4 separate regions of the Homo sapiens genome follow, and all the other regions are linked to region 4. The links come from fine-mapping of genetic effects on gene expression. A gene starts in region 4. Each other region holds a variant in brackets. All regions are shown on one strand. Distances are between the middles of the regions. Region 1 overlaps PPP1R14C (protein phosphatase 1 regulatory inhibitor subunit 14C). Region 2 has its middle 27 kb from the start of PPP1R14C. Region 3 holds the start of RAET1L (retinoic acid early transcript 1L). Region 4 holds the start of PPP1R14C (protein phosphatase 1 regulatory inhibitor subunit 14C).

The links. PIP is the estimated chance that this variant, and not a neighbour inherited with it, causes the effect.
Region 1: its variant is fine-mapped to the expression of PPP1R14C in esophagus mucosa (GTEx, PIP above 0.99). The same link has a PIP of 0.9 or more in sun-exposed skin and unexposed skin.
Region 2: its variant is fine-mapped to the expression of PPP1R14C in lung (TOPMed, PIP above 0.99).
Region 3: its variant is fine-mapped to the expression of PPP1R14C in cerebellar hemisphere (GTEx, PIP 0.99).

What each region holds. Positions count from the first base shown.
Region 1 is chr6:150,200,282-150,205,427 of GRCh38, forward strand. The region is part of intron 1 of PPP1R14C (protein phosphatase 1 regulatory inhibitor subunit 14C); the gene reads left to right. Among named protein-coding and RNA genes, the nearest start is that of PPP1R14C, 60 kb to the left of the region's middle. The variant G/C (reference allele first, on the strand shown) is at 2,420.
Region 2 is chr6:150,113,934-150,119,079 of GRCh38, forward strand. No RefSeq gene overlaps it. Among named protein-coding and RNA genes, the nearest start is that of PPP1R14C, 27 kb to the right of the region's middle. The variant A/G (reference allele first, on the strand shown) is at 2,680.
Region 3 is chr6:150,022,491-150,027,636 of GRCh38, forward strand. RAET1L (retinoic acid early transcript 1L) reads right to left here and starts at 3,042. Exons shown (of 5, transcript NM_130900.3): 1 at 2,897-3,042. The coding sequence starts at 2,981. The variant A/G (reference allele first, on the strand shown) is at 3,114.
Region 4 is chr6:150,139,869-150,145,014 of GRCh38, forward strand. It overlaps PPP1R14C (protein phosphatase 1 regulatory inhibitor subunit 14C), which reads left to right and starts at 3,176. Exons shown (of 4, transcript NM_030949.3): 1 at 3,176-3,630. The coding sequence starts at 3,325.

The DNA of each region.
Region 1 (5,146 bases), 60 kb after region 4:
CTGAAGTACAGGATTTTAAATAGACTCTATTTGAGCCCTGGAGATTGGCAGTAGTCTCGGCTACCCCTCATGGTGCCGGGGTCCGAATTACTCGCCTCTCTGGGACAGCTCCCTTTTCTCCCTCCCTTGTGATCTTGCATCCAACCCTTCCTTAACCAAGTCTGCAGACTTAGGTTTGTCCTCACCCTAAGGTGAACCAGCCAGCTCCTGTTCTCAGTCTGGGGAGTGCTCCTTTTCCACTGCTGAGCAGAGACTGGAGCAGGAGACACAGTGATGCGTCTCATGGCCCTGCCCCTGGCTCTCTTCCCTTTGGACACACCCCTAGGTGCAGCTGTGGCCTCCTCTGTAACAGGTCTGCAGAAGAGCAAGATTAGAAGCAGCCATATCCCCTACATTTGTAACAGGAGAGGCCCAGACCTCCAGCTGGGGGATTAACATGTTCTCCAGAAATGGCTAGTTACTCCCAAACTTGCTTCTTTCCTCCAAGTCTTCACTGAGAGCCTGAATCCATTCATATCTGCCTCACAAGGAGTGTGGTCCCCTGAGTGTGTGAAAGCTGTCGTCATCCTCTAAGTTTCCATGGAGTTTCCTGGGCTCCAGCTGGCTGTGGATACCAGGGCTTGAATGTGTTGGGTGCCTGGAGCCGCATGTCTGAAGGGCTCTGCTCTCCTCCCTTGCTGCTCCAAAAGTCACGGAAGTCAAAAGGGAGAAATCATTCCCCAGCCATGCTGCATCCTGAAAGGCACATAGCACAAGTTGTAGGGGCCATACATTTTGAGGTCAGATTGTCCAGGTTTGGAACTAAGGAAGCGATCGGCCCTATTGGGCAGGATACTCAGACATTCCATCTGTAAATAGAGATGATGATAATACTCACCTCAGGGAATTGTTTGTTATTTTATTTACAAAATGATTATCGGGGTCATGTGTCAGGCGCTATCCCAGGCACTGCTCTTGGTCCTCCAGTATGGGGAGGCAGACTGAGAAATGTGAATTGGAAGAGTGTGGAAAGTGCAGCGAAAGAGAGGTGCAGGGCATTCTAAGTTTCCAGGGCTGGGAGGTTGACCTCATCACAAGTCTGGCGAAGACATTTTGCTTTAGGAAGTGATGGCTGACACGAGATAACAAGAAGAGTGTCCTACACATGCACCCAGCACGTGCAAAGGCCCTGTGGAGGCCTGGCTGGGGAGTGTCCTGAGGGATCGGAGGAGACCAGCGGAGTTAGAGCTCAGGGAGTTGGGGTGAGGCATTGAATGGAGAGGAGGCCGGGAGCCCAGCAGGGGAAGCCTTCCAGGCAGAGGTAAGACTGTTGGTCCTAAGACTGGTAGGAAGCCACCCGTGAGTTCTAAGCTGGTGAATGACAGATCTGTGTTCTTAAAGTTGCTACTCTGGCTACAGAGTGGAAACTGGGATGGCGGAGGCATGAGGGTGAGTTTATGGAAGCCAGTTAAGAGGCTCCTGCTATAGCTTATGCAAAAGATGATTTAGCTTTCACTAGGGGGGCAGTGGAGGTGGTACAAAGTGCAGGTTCAGGAGACGGTAAGCCATAGAATTGACAGTTATGGTGATGGATTGGATGGTGGCGACAGGGAGAGGAGGGGTCAGGAGTGAAGTATTCCATGAACCGTCACATTGCCTGCATAAACATGCATTACAGGTAAACGATTATGGTAATAATTTACAAAGAAGCATGCCCTTTGCTCTGCTCATTTCACAAGGCAGCTCTGGTTAAATGACTTTTTATTTTGGACTGGCCTCATTCCCTAAGACCAAAGGCAGCTGAGCCTGTGTGCCCCGGGGGCCTGCCCTCTGACCCTGGTGTAGCCTTGCATCAAGCGTGAGCTCCTCTCTCGCCTCTCTGCTGTGTGGTGTGAGGAAGGTAGTGCAAGGAATGTTCTAGCAAGTTTCTCATCCTCATGCAGAACATCCCTGGTGGGTGCCCACCCCACAACAAGGCTTGCCAGCCTTGAGTCTCTGTTAATCTCTGTGTCCCTCCCCTGTACCCCCACTCTGTCACGCAGGCTGGGTCCCACGGAAGAGGCACTGCCTGGCTCCGGCTGGCTTTTCCCAGATCAAGCCCACACCTCCTTGCCTCAGGCTGTCCTGGTGTCTGGCTTTGCTTCTCCCTCTCTCATTGGCACCCTTGCTGTTCTTAGGTTTGTCCCTTTCTCATTGGCACCCTTGCCGTTCTTAGGTTTGGGGCAGGCCCGTGTCTTGTCAGCAGCAACCCTGGCTCCTCTCAACCAGGAGCTGGAGTCCCCATTGGGCAGAAGAAGCTTCGGCCGACTTTGCCGCTCCTTTGCCGCCGGGACAGCCCTGCAGGCTCTTCTCTGGGAGGGTCCCCATGGTGCCCTCCCACACAGCCTGGCCTGGTCTCAGGGCTGAAGCTGAGGACCTGGGTGTGCCTCAGTTGGCTGAA[G/C]GTCATTGTATGACTCACACCTGGACCTTTTGCCCAGCCCTCGGCTGTAAGAAGAACCAGCAGAGCCAGTCACAGGAAGGCCTGGCCCTCACCTTCCTGGGTTCAGCCACCACCAACACATTAGTCTTGGTCTTTTGTTTTGTTTTGTTTTAATTTAATCACTTAATTTTTTAAAAGCATTTTAGATTTACAGAAAAATTGAGCCAAAAACACAGAGAATTCTCATCTACCCCTTTCTTTCTCCTCCCTCCAGTCCGGTTGTCCTTTTTCTTAACATCTTGCATTAGTGTTGTATCTTGGTTACAATTGCTGAGACAATCTTGCTACATTATTATTAGCTAAAGCTCATCATTTCCATTCAGACTCACTCTTTGTGTTGTACATCCTGTGGGTTCTGGGGTTGTGTGTCATTTTCCTCTAATTGGGTTTTGGCAAATGTGTGATGATATAGATGCACCCTTATAAGATCACACAGGTTTTCTGGCCTGAAAATTGCCCTGTGCTCTGCCTTAGTCATCTCTCTTTCCTCATTGGCCCCTGGCAATCCCTGATGGTTTTACTATCTCCATATTTTAGTCTTTTCCAGAACGTCCTGTAGTTGGAATCATGCGTATGGCAACTTTCCATTTTGGCTTCATTCACTTATGGATCTGCATTTAAGGTCCTTCGTGTCTTTTCATGCTTGATGGCCCATATCAGCAATGGTCTTTTATACTCCAAGTGCAGTGTGTCTGCTCACCGGCTGGAGGCCTTGCGATGGGATTCACAATTTCCTCTCAGTGTCTTCCAAGCGGCTTTTCCGTATCATCTTCTCAGGCTTCTGTGCACCTGCCCGTACTGGACATATTTGGCCATTGCTGATCTAGGAGCCTTCCCGAGGCAGGAGGTGAAACGGTCTGGATTTCGTGTTCTGTGTTAGGAAATCTAACACTGCAGCAACCCCGAATGCCTCAGTCATGAGCAGTTGATAGTGCAGGGGAACCGTCTTCTCTCCAAGAATTGGCTAGAACGGGCTTCTGCCCACTGCTTTTATTCCATCATCGGGTAATTTGAGTGTTTCCAGTCTAAGAGAATTCTGCTTGGCCCTAAGCCTTTCCACTGCAAATCTGGATGTGGACCATCTTCTATCAGAGACAGCTCAGGCTCAATCCCTAAATTAATGGCAAGCAAGACGTAGACAGGTGTGACTTCTTAGAGACAGGCTGGACTGCTGCTGCTCTGTCCTTGGGTGGCGCCAGCCCTTCCTTTATTCTTTCCCAGTCTTCTTATCCATTGCCTGTAGCCCAGGACCAGTGCCAAGCCTGTAGCTTCCGCATGGTGTTCCTCTCCCTTCCGGGGATCTTCATGTAGGTGCTGCACGGAGAAAGAAGGGCCCTGAGAAGAGAGGCTGCTGTCGGCACAGGAGCCGTGAGGGTGGCGGCCGCCTGGCCACTGTGTCCAGTGCTTTCAAGGTGTTCTCAGTGTCCTCGTTTATGCCACGGCTTAGAAGATTGTCCTTGCCATCTTTAGCAACTGTCTCAGCCGTCACTTATTTTCACTCGTCTTACGAGGACCAACCTGCCGACTTTCTCGTCACGGGGGCATTGTTAACAACCAGCTGTGCGTGTTTAGTGTTCATAAGCAGAGCAAAGTGTGATTGTCTCCAGGAAGCTCTGCATCTGGGTTTTTTTGCTGACATTTTCTTTTCTTTTTTTCTCTTTGAATGCTGTGGTTTTGAACAAATCGGTAATGTGATAAGTCTTCACTTAACGATTTTCAGGCATCAGGAGTACACGATTCCCTGGAAGAGACATTTACATGGAATATTTATTTATTTGAAGAGGAATCGGATGTGCCCAGTCAACTTAGCACCCACTGAGGTCCTGTCACCATTTGTTGAGTTTGCACAACGTGCGTGGGCATGATTGTGCCCGATTTCTATCCAGCCCCGAGAATTAGCTAGCAGTCCCCATTTTACAGGTGTGGGAACTAAGGGTTAGGGGATGCGTTACCCTGCCCCAGCTCTCACGGGTTGTCAGAGGCAGAGATGAAACTGAAACCTGGGTCTGCTTCTCTCCAAACTCCATGCTCTGGGCACAACACCACTTGGCCCCTACCCAAGGGACCGACTCTGTGCTGAGAAGCAGGGCAGCCTGGGGCATACACGGGAAGTCGGAGGCTTCAGTCGCTTTCTTCCCATGCTGTGCTCTGTTCACCAGACTCCCTAGGGTCCTCCCATTGCAGGAGGAAGTGGCCTCTTGAGCCCTTTGAGATCAAGGCTGGGCATAGAACACAACCTCTGCTCCAACTCAGAGTCTTTTTTTTTTTTTTGTTAAACTGTGTCTGGAGCACTTTGATAATCTCTCCAGAGATAGTCATTTTTGCTAAAATGAATTGCTAAATGTAGGGGAGAGATTTGGGGGCACGAACTAAGCCTGCCCTGGGTGCCAGTGATACTGGCAACTTCCCTGGTGGGTGGGAAAGAGAAACCTGCCTGGTGGGTGGGTTCAGGACCTAGAAAAGACCTCCTCAGCCTAGTTCCTTGTTGCTTTGCCGCCGCCCCCAGGCAGTTCAGCCTGGGCTTAGTCAGTGTCTAGCAGCCTCACTGAACTTCTGGGACCAACAGCCCCTGGGTACTTCTCTTACCACCTGGTCTGCATCGTCAGTGGCTCACACACCCATCACACTGGCCTGCTGCTGCTGTTGCATAGGTGTGAGCTTGGTACTTGTGATCTTGCAAAGTGCTAA
Region 2 (5,146 bases), 26 kb before region 4:
AATTACTACAATTAATCTTTACAGTTCTAAACAGCACATTTAGAGCTACCTTAATTAGCAGAAATTCTGCGTTGCTTTGCAGGCAAGGAGGATGAAACACACGATGTAAAAGGCTGTAAGGATTCATTCATTTACTCTAGAAGATGTTTCTAAAAAAGCAAATATATGAAGTGTATACAGTAGTCCCCCTTACCTGTGGGGGATACGCTCCAAGATCCCCAGTAGATGCCTGAGACTGCCGATAATACTGGGCTCTATATATACTGTGTTTTTTCCTAAACTGTACACATACACCTATGCACAGTATGGGATTCACAACCACAACTAATAATAAAATAAAACAATGATAACAATATGCTGTAATAAAAGTTACGTGGGCCGGGGGCGGTGGCTCACGCCTGTAATCCCAGCACTTTGGGAGGCCAAGGCAGGCGGATCATGAGGTCAGGAGATCGAAACCATCCTGGCTAACATGGTGAAACCCTGCCTCTACTAAAAACACAAAAACAAAATCAGCCGGGCGTGGTGGCGGGCACCTGTAGTCCCAGCTACTTGGGAGGCTGAGGTGGGAGAATAGGGGTGAACCAGGGAGGCAGAGCTTGCAGTGAGCTGAGATCACACCACTGCACTCCAGCCTGGGCGACAGAGCAAGACTCCTTCTCAAAAAAAAAAAAAAAAAAAAAAAAAATTACGTGAATGTGGCCTCTTTCTTTCTCTCAAAGCCACCTATCATAGGTCATGTTTTTGGATTGTACATGACAGTGGGTAACTAGAAGCACGGAAAGTGAAACTTTGGAACACGGGAACTACTGCACATCTTTCCTGTAAAGTTAAAGAACACAAGTCATCTCAAAAGGAAATCATTTGCTATGAAGATACACAATTTAGAGAGAATGAAAGTGGAAGGATCTACTTGGTTAATGGATTCAGCGTTCAAAACCACACTGGGTTATTTAGGCAAGAAGACATACTTCATCGACTTTGATTGAATCTGCGAGGTACTGTAGTTGCCAAATCTTCACCTGGCTCCTTGTTGCACAGATAGTTTTTGAAAGATATTGTCAATAATTCCAGTTATAAGGACATGCCCAACACCTGTCAGTGTCCACCCGAAACCTCCTAGGGTTAGTCTACTGATGCTCACTTTGTGTGAAAAGGTTAAACGTGGCTAGGTGTCCATTGCCAATGGCCTCAGGTGGTCTGAAGAAATCCTGGTCACTTCTCTAAATCCCAGTGTGTCCGGAATTGGTGGGTTTTCGGTCTCGATGACTTCAAGAATGAAGCCACGGACCCTTGCAGTGAGTGTTACAGTTCTTAAGATGGTGTGTCGGGAGTTGGTTCCTTCTGACATTCAGATGTGTTTGGAGTTTCTTCCTTCTGGTGGGTTCGTGGTCTCGCTGGCTTCAGGAGTGAAGCTGCAGACCTTCGCCGTGAGTGTTACAGCTCATAAAGTTGGTATAGACCCAAAACGTGAACAGCAACAAGATTTTCTGTGAAGAGAAAAAGAACAGTTCCTACACCGTGGAAACGGACCCCCGCAGGTTGCCGACGCTGGCTCAGGTGGAGTGCTTTTATTCTCTTATCCGGCCCCACCCACATCCTACTGATTGGTCCATTTTACAGAGAGCTGATTGGCCCGTTTTACAGAGAGCTGATTGGTCCATTTTGACAGAGTGCTGATTGGTGCATTTACAATCCTTTAGCTAGACACAAAAGTTCTCCAAGTCCCCAACAGATTAGCTAGACACAGAGCGCTGATTGGTGCATTTACAAAACCTTTAGCTAGACACAGAGTGCTGATTGGTGCATTTACAATCCTTTGGCTAGGCAGAAAAGTTCTCTAAGTCCCCACCCAGCCCAGGAGCCCAGCTGGCTTCACCTCTCAATGGCACTCGCCGGGGGACTTCGCAGCACCTAGCCCAGGCACTCCAGCAGCCCAGAGGGAGCTTGTCCCGGATCAAGCCCAGCAGGCGCCGGCCGGCTGAGCCTAGTGAGGGAGCCCCGTGAGCCCGTGCCAGCCCGGAACCCGCACCAGCCTGCAAGCGCCACGCTCAGCCCCGGCTGGCTTCGGCGCCTCCCGCTCCACACCTCCCTGAGAGCAGAGGGAGCCTGTTCCGGCCTTGGCCAGCCCCAGAGAGGGGCCCCCACAGTGCAGCGACGGCTGAAGGGCTCCTCAAGCGCGGCCAGAGTGGACGCTGAGGCCGAGGAGGCACCAAGAGTGAGCGAGGGCTGCTAGCACGTTGTCACTTCTTACCAGGGGCTAATGGACACAAGAGGATGCCAGTCCTTTGAGCCTCCTTGGAAGCTGAGTTCCTCTCTGAGGGTCAACAGTCAACACCGGGCCTGCCTGGGCCTGGACTTCTCTGGCCTAACGTCCTATCCACAAAGTCAGGCTTTGTGGATAGAGTTCAGCCCCTGGGCCTGGGCAGGGCCAGCTGTGTGCTCCCCCAGCTCCTGCCTCGCTTCTCTGGCTCCCCAGGGCTGGCCTGCTCAGACTGGCCCCAGTTCTGGGAAGGAATGGTGCCAACTGCCTTCCCCATTCATGGTGTCAATAAGGGGCTTTACAAAGTTGTCCCTCACCCCCACCCCCTACCTCAACAAGAGCTATTGTGTTATTGAAAGTGCCGAGGGCATTTCCTGGGAACATGGAATTCATCAAACAGAAACTTACAATGAGAG[A/G]AATGAACAAATTCTACAAGTGTTTGCTCCTCTCGGGCTCCCAGGAGGCCAATCCCACAAACGCCTTTGGGAGGCAAACCTCATGGGGCTGCCCGGGCAGGAAACCAATCTGTGCTTCTTCCCTTGAAAGATGCTGGGGCCTGCCCCAAAAGGTGGCTCTGAGTCACAACCAGGAGCCACCGGGAGCATCTGGGGGGACTGCTGTTTTTCTCCAGCGGCCCCAAAGGCCATCCAGGAGTTCTCCATTGAGACCTGGACGTCAAGGGGAAGCCTTGGGTGGAACTGCGAGCGGGTGGCCTTGTCTTTACTGGTCTTTTTCCGTTGAGGCTTCTCTCCCAGCACATCCTTTCTAGGGTCTCTGGTCTACTGTTCTCACCACCCTTGTTCAACCGACCACCCCCTTCTCACCACTGGCCCCCAACTATATTTATTTATTTATTTATTTATTTATTTATTTATTTTGGAGATGGAGTCTCATTCTGTCGCCCAGGCTGGAGTGCAGTGGTGCAATCACGGCTCACTGCAAGCTCCGCCTTCCGGGTTCACGCCATTCGCCTACCTCAGCCTCCCGGGTAGCTGGGACTACAGGCGCCCGCCACCGCGCCCAGCTAATTTTTTGTATTTTTAGTAGAGACGGGGTTTCACCGTGGTCTGGATCACCTGACCTCGTGATCCGCCTGCCTCGGCCTCCCAAAGTGCTGGGATTACAGGCGTGAGCCACCTCGCCCGGCCTTCGCCCCCAACTATTCAGGACACCTGGCTACATCTGATGCCAGCTTCCCCTCCACCCTGTCAAGACGCTCCACGCTCCGCCTTCTCACCTCCTCCAGCCGTCATCTGCTGAGACCCTGCCTATCCACGTGGCAATCAGAGGGACCGCCACACCCCCAAGGCCTCTGCCACTCTTGAGGGACACACATCTTAACAGTGGCTCCATGCACCTGTGAAACCCAGTAGGGCCTATAGGGGAGGAAGCACAGCCTCGTGGCGGGGGAAGGAGTTCAGGATGCGCCACCCCAAAATATGCTGCTATTCACTCAAAATTAACTATTTTAAGTTAAAAACACTGGAAAAAAGCAGGTGTGGGAAGGGCACTCTGATCTTTTTTTGTTTGTTTTCAGAAGCAGGGGATAAAATACCCATATAAAATGTGACCACTGGGCAGGCGTGGTGGCTCACACCTGTAATCCCAGCACTTTGGGAGGCCAAGGCAGGTGGATCACCTGAGGTCAGGAGTTCGAGATCAGCCTGGCCAACGTGGTGAAACCCTGTCTCTACTAAAAATATAAAAAATTAGCCAGGCATGGTGGCGGGTGCCTGTAGTCCCAGCTACTGGGGAGGTTGAGGCAGGAGAATCGCTTGAGCCCGGAAGGCAGAGGTTGCAGTGAGCTGATATCACACCATTGCACTCCAGCCTGGGCGACAACAGCGAAACTCCGTCTCCAAAAAACAAAACAAAAAAAGTGACCATCTTGTACCAGCAAAGAGAAACATTCTTTTCAGCAGAGAACGGAAGTTGAGGCTGAGAGAAATCTGCACAAACAGATCTTGTTAAAATAACCGTTATTGTTCTTTAGTCTCCCATATATTTCAGTTACTTTTCTGCAATTGTTATTCTTTGTCCAATGTAATATGTAAGCACATAGGTTTAGCCGCTTCTTTGGGTCTTCATCTTTCTTGTGAGGGCTTCCACTGCACACAAATCAAATTTGTGTGCTTTTGTCCAGCTAATCTGTCTTATGTCAGTCCCAGCTGGAAGCCCTCAGACAGCAGAAGGACATTTTCCTCCCTTACAAGTGAATGTCCTCGTGGGCGGGCTGCCGGGAATGACACCTGGAGACAGCGTAGGTGCTGCAGAGGGTAAACTGCAGCTCACGACTACATAGGGCTCACACCCATCCATTGTTTTGCTTGCACAGTCTCTTTTAAAAATTTTATTTAGTTGTCAACATTTAAAAGTTTTTTCACATTAAAATCTGAATTTTCATGGAAACCTGGAAAGCTGGCAGCGTGGGATCTGAGTAGTTCTTGGTGGAAGTGAAGAATGTGCCTGTGTTTAACATGCGCACGCGTCTGCTTCACTCCCTGCCTGGGGGCCCTGCGGGCACAGCCTGGGGAAGGCAGTGCTGGCATAGACAAGGGGCTGCCAGGCAACTGGGGCCTGGTGCAAGTTCAGAGGAGGCCAGAGTCTAGATTCTCTGCTCAGAACCTGCATGCCTGGAATCAAAAGAAAGTGACAAATCGCACCTGAGTAAATATAGTTTCACAATGAAGCGCATGTCAACACTTCAATGCAGAGGCTGTATCACTCAGGAAGCTCTTCAGGGAGCAAGGGACAGTCAGTGCGGGGAGTGGGAGGCTGGAGTTGAGGGCCGGCCTCACAGGCCTGCGTGGAATGGTCTGCTGATGCTGTCTCAAACTCACTGATACTTTGCCAATGAGGGTCATTTTGCACTGTGTACCTTCC
Region 3 (5,146 bases), 120 kb before region 4:
CCCTCTGCCCACATCAGTCAACACATGACCTTGCTAGAAAGGTGCCAGGCCTCTCTAGCAAGAGAGGAGGAAGGGCCTGGATGGCAGAGGATCTTCAGCAGTAGCCCACGTGGACTGCGGGAGGTGGGAGAGGGTGTGGGTCCACCCCTGTGGATGCTGGTGCTGGTTGAACAGAGTGAGGATGGAACCCCGTTGGATAAAGAAGAGTTAATTATCATGGTCACAGGATGTAACATGTTGGCAAAGCCCCTGGTGATGGCATGCATCTGCTATGAGGAGGCCTTCCTGAAACCTTGGACAAAGAGATGGTCCACACAGCAAGAAATGGAAAATCTGAAAGTCTAAGGCAGGTAGTGGAGGGAGAGATCACAGGCTCAGAGAAGTGCCCATGCCAGAGGGGTCTAAGTGTGAAAATCCAGAACAATGTCCATCCACTGTGCTTATGGGAAACCTGGAGGACTCCTGTTTACCCAGCATATAAAGAAGGCCCCATGAGAAGGCACCAGAATGGAATGAAGCTTAGGGATGCCTATTGCTGAAGGCCAGGGTTGGGGGTAGGAGATGCTGTTCCTGAAATCTGCTCCCAGAGTAATGGGATGAACAATTCTGAAATTCCAAATTCCAGGTGGAGGCTGTCAACTGTCAGGAGCAAGGAGGGTGCAATGATGGAAATGATTAGAGAAGTCACAATGCCAGCTGGGGACCTCAGTTATACAAAGTTATGCCCATGGCTCATAGAACAAAGGGGTCCAAAGTCCAAAAGAGATGGAAACCCACCCCGGATACTGCTGGATTTAAATAATTACAAGAAACAGAGATAAACCAAATCAGGAGGCTGAAAGTAGCCAGTCCATCAAGAACGAGGCTGCTTTGCCTAATTTGCAGAATGAAGCCACTTCTCAGACCCTGAACCCATGACTATAAGAAGACACCAGTTTCTAGTGAGGAAGGACCCTTTAACCCTGCAGCCAGGACAGTGAGTCCTTGTGGCCTTCTCCAGAGATATTTATGGCCAATAGAGTTTGCTGTGAAGGGCAATTTTGTAAACATGTAAAGGTGTTCAGGGAATATATTCTCCATTGTAACTACTCAACTCTGCTGTTGAAGCTCAAAAGCAGCCATAGACAATCCATGAATGATGAGCGAGGCTGGACCTACCTTAAGTGCCCAATGACCCAAGACCCCCTAAGATCCTAGAGGTACATGTGGTCACAATGTCTAATTGGAGAATCACAACAGAGATTCCATGTGAATATTCAGAGACAAGGCAATGCCACTCACAGCAAGGAAATCGCAACATTAAGCAGTGGCTCCTGTAGAGTACTGCACCTTGGCAGAGATGGGGCCTTTTGCCATGCATATAAAGAAGGCCCCATGACAAGGCACCAGAATGGAATGAAGCTTAGGGATGCCTATTCCTGAAGGCCTCAGAGCTGCCCATTACTGGTGGGCTCCTCGCCCTCTAGGTCATTAGGAAGATAGGCCCAGCAGTGAGAAGATGCAGGTGGTTCTTCTGGGATGGGCAGGAGCAGGGCCACCGGGAACCAAGAAGTTGCACAAGCAGTTGGACCTGATCCCCAGGACACCACGTGGCTGCACCCACTCACCCTCAGCTCACACCTGAGGCTTCAGGGAGGGTACCTGATGGTCCCCATGGATGCCACTCAGCACAAAGGAGGGGAGAATAAGCCCCCAACTATGGGACCCCCACTCCCATCACATCCACACCACCCAGAAGCCACAGGCAAGGTAGGGCCACCTTCTACTTTCCAACTGACATCAGAGACATCACTTGGAGATGACACCCTAGGGGATGGGGCACTGGGACACTGTAATCCCCTGATCTGGGATCAGCAACCTAGGACAGGGTCCAAATCTGGTCCCCCCTCTTTGAAGGTTGCCATTGCCTGCTGTTGCTCTACAAAGGGACAGGACTGGACACAGAGACGGAGAACCCATGGCCTGCAAAGATCACAGGGCATCCTTCCTCCCTTTCTAGAAAGGGTTTGCTGACCCCTGTCTACACAGTGACTATTCTCTATGACGCTGACACCCCCGTAGGAAGAACAGGCGGTCTGGGCCCCAAGGGCAGAAGTGGGTGCCTCTACTCACCAGAGTTCCCAGGGTCATCCTGGAGGAAATGGTGCTTCCCATCCCCCCTGCACAGGTTCTGAGGGGAGCTTGGGGTGTGTTTGTTGGGGTGTGTCCTCAGGCAAGAGGCAGAAGGTGCGACGTGGTGTAGGAGGTGGTGAGGTACCCTTCATGGATGGGGAGACCTCAGGGGTGACCAGCTGGGCTGAGGTGGGCAGTAAGAGGATGTGACCTGGGTGGTGGCAGTGGATGGTGAGGGGAGGGGTGGCGGGTATCTGCTGAGCCCCTGGGTGCAGGTGAGTGTCTACAGGAAAAGTGCGGGGAAAACAAAGGCAGGGAGTCCTGGGGGTGCTGGAGGGTTTGTGTGGTAGAGAGCAGGTGAGAGCAGAGCAGGCTTGTGGCTGGTGGGGGCGTCTGTGATTGTATCCCTGTGGTACCCCCCTTCACCCAGTCCTGACCCCAGCTCTGTTCCCGGGGGGGCTCTGGTTTCTCCTTCCGAAAGGCGGGTGGGACTGCCGGGCTGCACTAGGAATCCGGGCCCCACCTAGCCCTCGCAGCCCTCTGGCCCCTCCACCCTCCTGCCAGCCTCGTTTTCACCCTGCTCTTTTTCGCCCCTACTGGGGCAAGAACAGCCTTGGGGAGTGGACCCGGCGGGAAGGAGCCCAGGAGGGGAACTGAGCTGGGGGCGCAGTTCGGGGAGATCTCCCTTGTCCTTCCAGAAGCCTTCCCTCCTCTGAAACCCGCTGCAGTCCACAGTCCCTCAGGTTTGGCCCCCGCCCCGCTTAGGCTCCATCCACCAGCTCACCGTCTCGCCTAGCCCGGGACCAGCCGAACAGCAGGAACAGAAGCGGGAGGCACAGAAGCAAAGCTGGGATGGCGGCTGCTGCCATTGGGGACCAGGAGGGCTGGGGACAAGAGATTTAATCAAGGTGGATCCTGGAAGATGAAATCACCTCTGTGCTGAAAGGCTGGCTTATATACTGTTAGTTACTGGGGAATGTACCGGGGAATGAGTCACCTCG[A/G]TTCTGAAAAGCCAGATTTTAATGCTACTGGGCGTAGTCACTGGGCGCGTTCCACCTCTTCGTTTCATTGTCTGGACGAAATCCAGTTTCCATGCTAGTGTCCCTTCCCTTCTTCACCCGCTCCGGCAGCTTGGTGGCCTCGTGCCCGGGCCCCACTCCTGCCAGGACACGATTCCTTCCACGACAGACTCATTTAATCATTATAGCATTTTTTATTAATGGTGAAGAAACGTGCAGAGGAATATTCAGCGGCCTCGGCGTCTCCTTGTCCCCGCCTGGGTCCGCGGCACTCTCCCTCCTTCCGCTTGCGCCGCGGGGTCCCTGGCTCACCCCGCCCTGGGCACAGCCATGGGCCTGTTCGCGTCCCCTCCACTACTTCCCCAGTCCCCGGTGGGCGTGGTTACAGTCCGGGCTGGGTTTTATTTTTTATTTCTTTATCTATTTATGTATTTGGAGATGGGGTTTCTCTCTTATTGCACAGGCTGGAGTGCAACGGCCCGATGTCGGCTCGCCGCAGCCTTGTCTCCTGGGTTCAAGCGATTCTCTTGCCTCAGCTTCTGGAGTAGCTGGGATTACGGGTGCCCACCACCAAGCCCGGCGAATTGTTTGTAGTTTTGGTAGAGATGGGGTTTCACCTTGTTGGCCAGGCTGGTCTCAAACTCCTTTCCTCAGGTGATCCACCCACCTCGGCCTCCCAAAGTGCTGGGATTACAGGCATGAGTCAGCGTGCCCGGCCTGGGCTAGGTTTTATTACAGAAACAGCAGGTAGGGTTTCAGAGGTTCAAAACAACATATTGTATAGTAAACAATTGGTGAAGATGGTAAATTCTATGTTCTATGTTTTTACCAAAATTAAGCAGCTTTAAAAATTATCTTAACAATTTATGTCTTGCTTCTGCTTCACCCAGTGCAGACTGGCCAAAAGGCTGCTCATTAAAATCGAGGACAGCATTGAGGACCTCATCCCTAGAATCTCAACCTGTGACACGCTTGCTGATTTAGAAAGCTCCTCAGAGAGATTACCTCTGAGCTCCCAGTTCAGCAGCCGCCCTGGCCCAGGTCCACCGATGGCACAGGGGGCTCAGCAGAGCAGGTTCAACTGAAAGTTCCTAGTGGTTCCCAACTGTCAGCGCATTCTGCTGGCCTCTTCCCCCTGGGCAAAGAGCCAGCCATCCTTCAAAGCCGGGCACAAATACCCCCTCCCATGTGTGTCCTGCATGTTCCCACAATACAGAACACCCTCCTGCTCCCTGAGACCTGGGTTCACAGTGGGTGCATCCAGATCTCCCTGTGTGACAATTGCTCACACATTTCTTTGCCTCTCTGCTAGAAGCATGAGGTCTTTGAGAATATACTACATCCCTTCCTAAAAAGACCTAGTGAACAACTTGCTCAATCATGTAATCAATTGTGTTTCCACGAAGAGCAGGAGCCGAGGGAGGAGTCTACACACGTGTGGGGTTCACTTTCCAGCACACCAATCCGTGGCCAACCACACCTGAATCCATGGCTGCACCCACACCTCTGCTCAGCCCCTAGATGGTCACTGGACTCATTATCAAAGGGGCAACCCCAAGTGCCCCCTTGTCTTAGTCACCATGAAGGCATCTAGACCTGTGGGCAGAAGGCAGAGGGAGGTGGGGGGCCCAGCGATCCCTGGCTGTTGGGATAAGGAATGGGCAGAGCCCCTGAGTCCCACACTGCCCCCAGCCACTCAGCCTTCTCCCTATTAAATGAGTAAAATAGACACAGACCTTCTTCTCCACACAGTTGTCATGTGGGGAGGATGCACACCTGGTGACCAGCAATCCCCAGAGCCCTGAGGCTGCGGGAAAGGGGAGGAGGCCTAGACCAAGCCCAGGGACTGTCTCTGCTTCTGCACAGGGGGATGGGATAGCAGCCCCTCTGTGACTGTGCAGGGACACAGGAGCCTAGAAGTTTCTGGCCTGATGCACTAGAGCCTCTGTCCAGGAGGGGCCATGTGGAGGGTGGTCTGGAGGACAACAGACACACGGGGGTGGGCAGTTCTCAGA
Region 4 (5,146 bases):
AAAACATAACCAAGCTAAGAAAACACAAAACTACGAAGAAAAAGATTCAAATGAAACATCCTTAGGCTGCCCTCTCATAGCAGGGAGTAATTGCCTTCAGGTAAAAGTTGATTCCGGACCATTCAATTCACTGAAAGCTATTCACTGTCTTAGATTAACCAGCACCTAAAAACACTTGACTAAATAGGCTAGAAATAAAAATGTTTTCCTTGAATAAATGTATATATTATTGGTTTTGTAGATGAGAAATACCACTGGTTTTGCCGAATTTAAATAGTCAGCTATGTAAAGGGTCTCTGGACTAGGAAAAATTCCTTTATTCCTAAATATTTTGGCTTCAATATTTGAAATCTGCAAAAGCAGTATTTCTATCTGTCAAAATGAGGCCATTAAGTTTTGATTATTCAAACCTGGAATGAAGTGTGTGTGTCTGGGGGTAGAGGAGATGATATGGACTTCACTTTGAATATAAATTACGTACTGGGTGGAGCAAATGGATTTAAAGAAAGAGGAACCCTGGTTCAATTCTATTTGCCAGTCAAGGTGACTCACTTGAACATCTGAAGGCCAGCGTACCTGTGGAAAGAGACTATTTCCTGGATTTTCTTCTGTGAGTCAAGATGCTTAAAACCCATGTCTTTTAGTATCTGTCATTTTGGAGTTGTAAGGGAAAATTGAGTTTTAAGCATAAAGGAAAAAGCATCTTATGCTGTGAGAAAAAAATTGACATCAGAATTTCTCAGAAAGAACTTAGTGAATTTTTTAAAATTATTTGACGTTATCCTTGAATGACTGATTTCGTTGTCCAAAGACTTAAAGAAAGGAGTTGGAATTCCCCAGACTTTGCCAAACTGTGGGATGGCACAATAGGTATTGTCAGGTCCCAGGGCCAGAATGAGGTAGAGATTTTATGTAGTTTCTCCTTTGTTAATAACATTTAAGCTGTTTTCGTTCTGATTTGCATTCTCCTGATTAGTGCAGTTGGTCAAAGCTGGTGCTAGCGGACTTGGCCAGATGTCTGGAGCCATATAAGCTGATTCTGTGTGGGAGATGCTGGGGCTGGTTCCTGCCCTCCTTTCCCTTCCTCCTTGCAGACAGAGTTCCATTTTGAGGTGGTCACTCTCTTGGCTGTGTGTTCGGGGTTTACAGTGACCCACCCTAAAGGCAGAGGGGCAGAGGTGGTGCAGAGACTGGTCATCGGTCTCTAGGGGCAATCAAGGTAATTCATCTCCCTTGTCCCTGATAGGCTCGGTGCAAAACCCATCTTCTAAAGGGCAGCTGGCCTCTTCTAGCGGGGCAGAGATCGTTCAGCTTTGACCCCTTTGTAATTATGGCAGGAGTCCAGGGCCCCACACCAGCCACCCTATTTCAATCTCCGCAGATCCTTCCCCTTCACATTGTGAGGCTTGACATGTCCCTGTGAAGAGCCGCAGGCATGGAACACTTTGGGAAAATCCCTATTCAGGCTCTCACTGGAAAACCCCAGACTGAGGGTACAAAGGCAATGGATCCTAAGCCTGGGTAGAGCAGAGCTGGGCGCTGGTGGATCGCAGAGCCTGAAGCGCCAGGAGAAACCTGCTGGTTACTTTTATTTTGTCTTTGTAGTGTCAGTCTAGAACCCCACACAGGATCTTCTCCATCATAGGAAAGTGTTCCGAGGAATTTGACTTGGTATCTATTTTATCTCTGAGAAACTTCTTTGAGTAGCTGCCAGTAACCTTTAGGGCTCTTTTATTTAAAAACAACAACAACAACAAACAAACAAAAAAAGTTCATGGCCAGGCGCGGTGGCTCACACCTGTAATCCCAGCACTTTGGGAGGCCCAGGCGGGCGGATCATGAGGTCAGGAGTTCGAGACCAGAATGACCAACATGGTGAAACCCTGTCTCTACTAAAAATACAAAAATTAGCTTGGTGTGGTGGCGAAAGCCTGTAATCCCAGCTCTTCAGGAGGGTGAGGCAGGAGAATCGCTTGAACCCCGAAGTCAGAGGTTGCAGTGAGCCGAGATCTCGCCACTGCTCCCCAGCCTGGGCAACAGAGAGACTCCGTCTCAAAAAACAAAACAAAACAAAACCGTTACTAAAAGCCGCTTACTTGTATTCATTCGGACGTCTCTGTGGTTTCTATCAGTTCCTGAACAGGAATGTATTGTTGTGTACAAGAAGAATATGTTAGTGTCTCCCTAATTTTACACATGCAGTTTTCTGTTTACAACTTCCCTCCCCACCTTATTGTCCTAACCCTTCTGAGAAGCTCCTTCATGTGTAACTACTAGGCTGTGATGTTTTGCAGTAGAGTCAGGCAGTGCTGTTGCCCTCCTGGGTGGAAGGGGCTGTTTGGAATGGGATGGAGAGAAAGCTGGCAGTGCACGGGACGCAACACTAGAAATGTGAAACCAGGACCCTGTCGCCGACCCTCTTAGAGAAATGTTTACTGTCTGGATGCCCCCAGACGCCTTGCCTGAGCGCCGTCACGCTTTCTGCCCTTTGGATACGAAGATATCCGAATGCTGTGCCCATGATTAAGCAGACGCTTAGTAAGGAAAGAAAACATTGGTCTGGAAATAATTTCTCAAGCGCCGTGACTGCCTTATTGCACAAACATCGCCTCTTCGATGTTTCTCACAATCCAGAGAGGAAGTGGCATCCATCGTGGCATGAATAGGAATGTGTGTTTGGAGCCGTGGGGCGGGGCTGGAGGGGAGGGGACGCTACCCAGCCAACAGAGGAGACGGTGGGGCTAGGAAAACCTCCTGGGGGAGCCTGCGGCGCGGTCCTTTCCTGTGTCCCCTTCGCTGCGGGTCCTGCCCGGGGCCGCGCCAGGTGGAGGCCCCGAGAGGCGGCGCGTTTCCTGCGCTCCGGGATTGCGGGAGAAGCGTGAGTCCCTGTCTCCGAGACTAGAGGCCACGGACACCCGCGCAGGAGCATCCCCTGGCACCCCGCCCCACGCCCGTCCTTCCGGAGTCTACACATCGGCGACCTCCCGTGTCTAGGCGCACACATTTCCCGCCCCGCGGAGACTCCCACGCCCCGGGCCCTCTCTGCCGCAGGCGCCAGATCCCGCCTCTGGGGGCTGGACCGAGAGGGTCCTCGGCGGCTTCTTTAAGGCTGCGGTCCCCGCCCCGTCGTCCTCCCCGCCCTCCTCCCTCTCGCCGCGGCTCCTCCCGCCCTCCCAGAGCAGCCGGGCGGCTGGGCGCGCGCGGCGCAGAGCAGGTGCCGGGGAGCCCTTCGCATGCGGCTGCCGGGCCGGAGGTGGTAGCGGCGCCGGGCGCGCTCCGCCCGCCCCTCCTCCGGGCCGCACTGAGGCTCGGGCGCGCGGGGACATGTCGGTGGCGACGGGCAGCAGCGAGACGGCCGGCGGGGCCAGCGGCGGCGGCGCACGGGTTTTCTTCCAAAGCCCCCGGGGTGGCGCCGGTGGCAGCCCCGGCTCCAGCAGCGGCTCAGGCTCCTCCCGGGAGGACTCGGCGCCCGTGGCCACGGCGGCCGCTGCAGGGCAGGTTCAGCAGCAACAGCAGCGGCGACACCAGCAGGGAAAAGTGACAGTGAAATACGATCGTAAGGAGCTTCGGAAGCGGCTGGTGCTGGAGGAATGGATCGTGGAGCAGCTGGGTCAGCTCTACGGCTGCGAGGTACCTGGGCGCGGGGCTGGGAGGGTCGGGGACCTCTCTAGCTCCTCTGTGCCCGCGCAGTAATTTTCCCGGGCTCCAGCTCCGGGGCGCGCATGTCCCTGACTCCCGGGGACCAAGTGCCAGGAGCGAGGCGCGGCGCCTTCTCTCCCCCGCGGTGCCCTCTGGCGTCGGGCTCAGCGGTTGGGACGCCCCTGTCTGGGTTCGGCTGCCGGTGCCCGGGGATCTGCGGGCCCCCTTGGTGGCCGTGGGGAGGGTTGGGTCCCGCGGAGCACAGTGCTTTTCTCCGAGCTCCGGGCGCCTCTGGGCTCCAGCTGCAGCTGCGCAAAGCGGGGCTCGGAGGGGCTCACTCCAGCTGCGCCTCAGCAGCGGTTGGGGATACAGCAGCCAAAGAGAGCAGCGCTCACTGCTGGGATCCGGGCAGCCCTGATTTTTGTGGAGAACGAGCAGGGAAGGAAGGAAGCTGCCTCGTGGAAAGGAGAGGTTCTGGGGATCTCAGAGGCCCCCTTGGTTCTTGAAATTCCCCGTGAAAATCCTGAGATGGAACGCTTTCCGCTTTCCAGCCAGCCCCGACGGTGTCTCCATAATTCCGCCCTGCATTATCAGAGCTGCACACGTTGTGCTTTGTTGAAGCCGTAGTTTTTCCTCTCTAAGCTCAGTTACTCCCATTGATGGGCGCAGAATGAGCATCTGGGGCAACCTCGACGGGTGCCTCGGTGGAAGGGCGGGAGCCCTGCGGGGGGCCTGCGGGATCCCGGGATCTGTCAGCTTCAGGCTCCCAGCTCCCCTCTCCTCCACGACATCGTGACTTCCCAAGGTCCAGGGACTAAGGTCATACACAAGTCTCAGGGACGTGTATACATTTGATTTAGGGAGAAATATGTAGAATAAACTGCAGCAAAACGACTGAAGCCAAAATGATCTCTCATGAGCATCTTGAATAACAGTTATTAATTCTAAATGAAGTGACCTCCTCTTAAGGGAGTGGAGTTTGGAAAGGGTGGAAGCATGAAGGGGTTAATAATTAAGAATGTGGCTTCTAAGCTAAAGCTAGGTTTGTGTTCATTCAACTGTTGTGCTCTTCAACAGAGATGACAACCAGATGAACTCACAGGCTTTACCACTAATGTCGGGTGTTCTGTATTTGACACATTTCATGGCCTGTTGTGAAGACACGTTTTCTTAAACACCCTCATTGCACAAGAAAACAGCATACTCGTTACTGACTACTGATAAATGATTATAATATAATGAAGCTTGACTGTATGACTAATGGGGTTGTAAAAATGTGTTGTTTCTCCAGTCCAGCTCTTACAAAAAGCTAATTTAATTGCATAAATAAAAACTGGCAAACATAAGAAGTATTCATGAGATTTTTATAGGAAGTTGGCAAAACTCTGTAAAGAAACATTATTTGATGTAGATGGGATTACTGTTGGATGAGTGGATGTGCTCAGTCCTGCCTCTGTAGAATCCAGTTAATTTTCATTTATTTCATACTGTTTTTTTTTTCTCCATT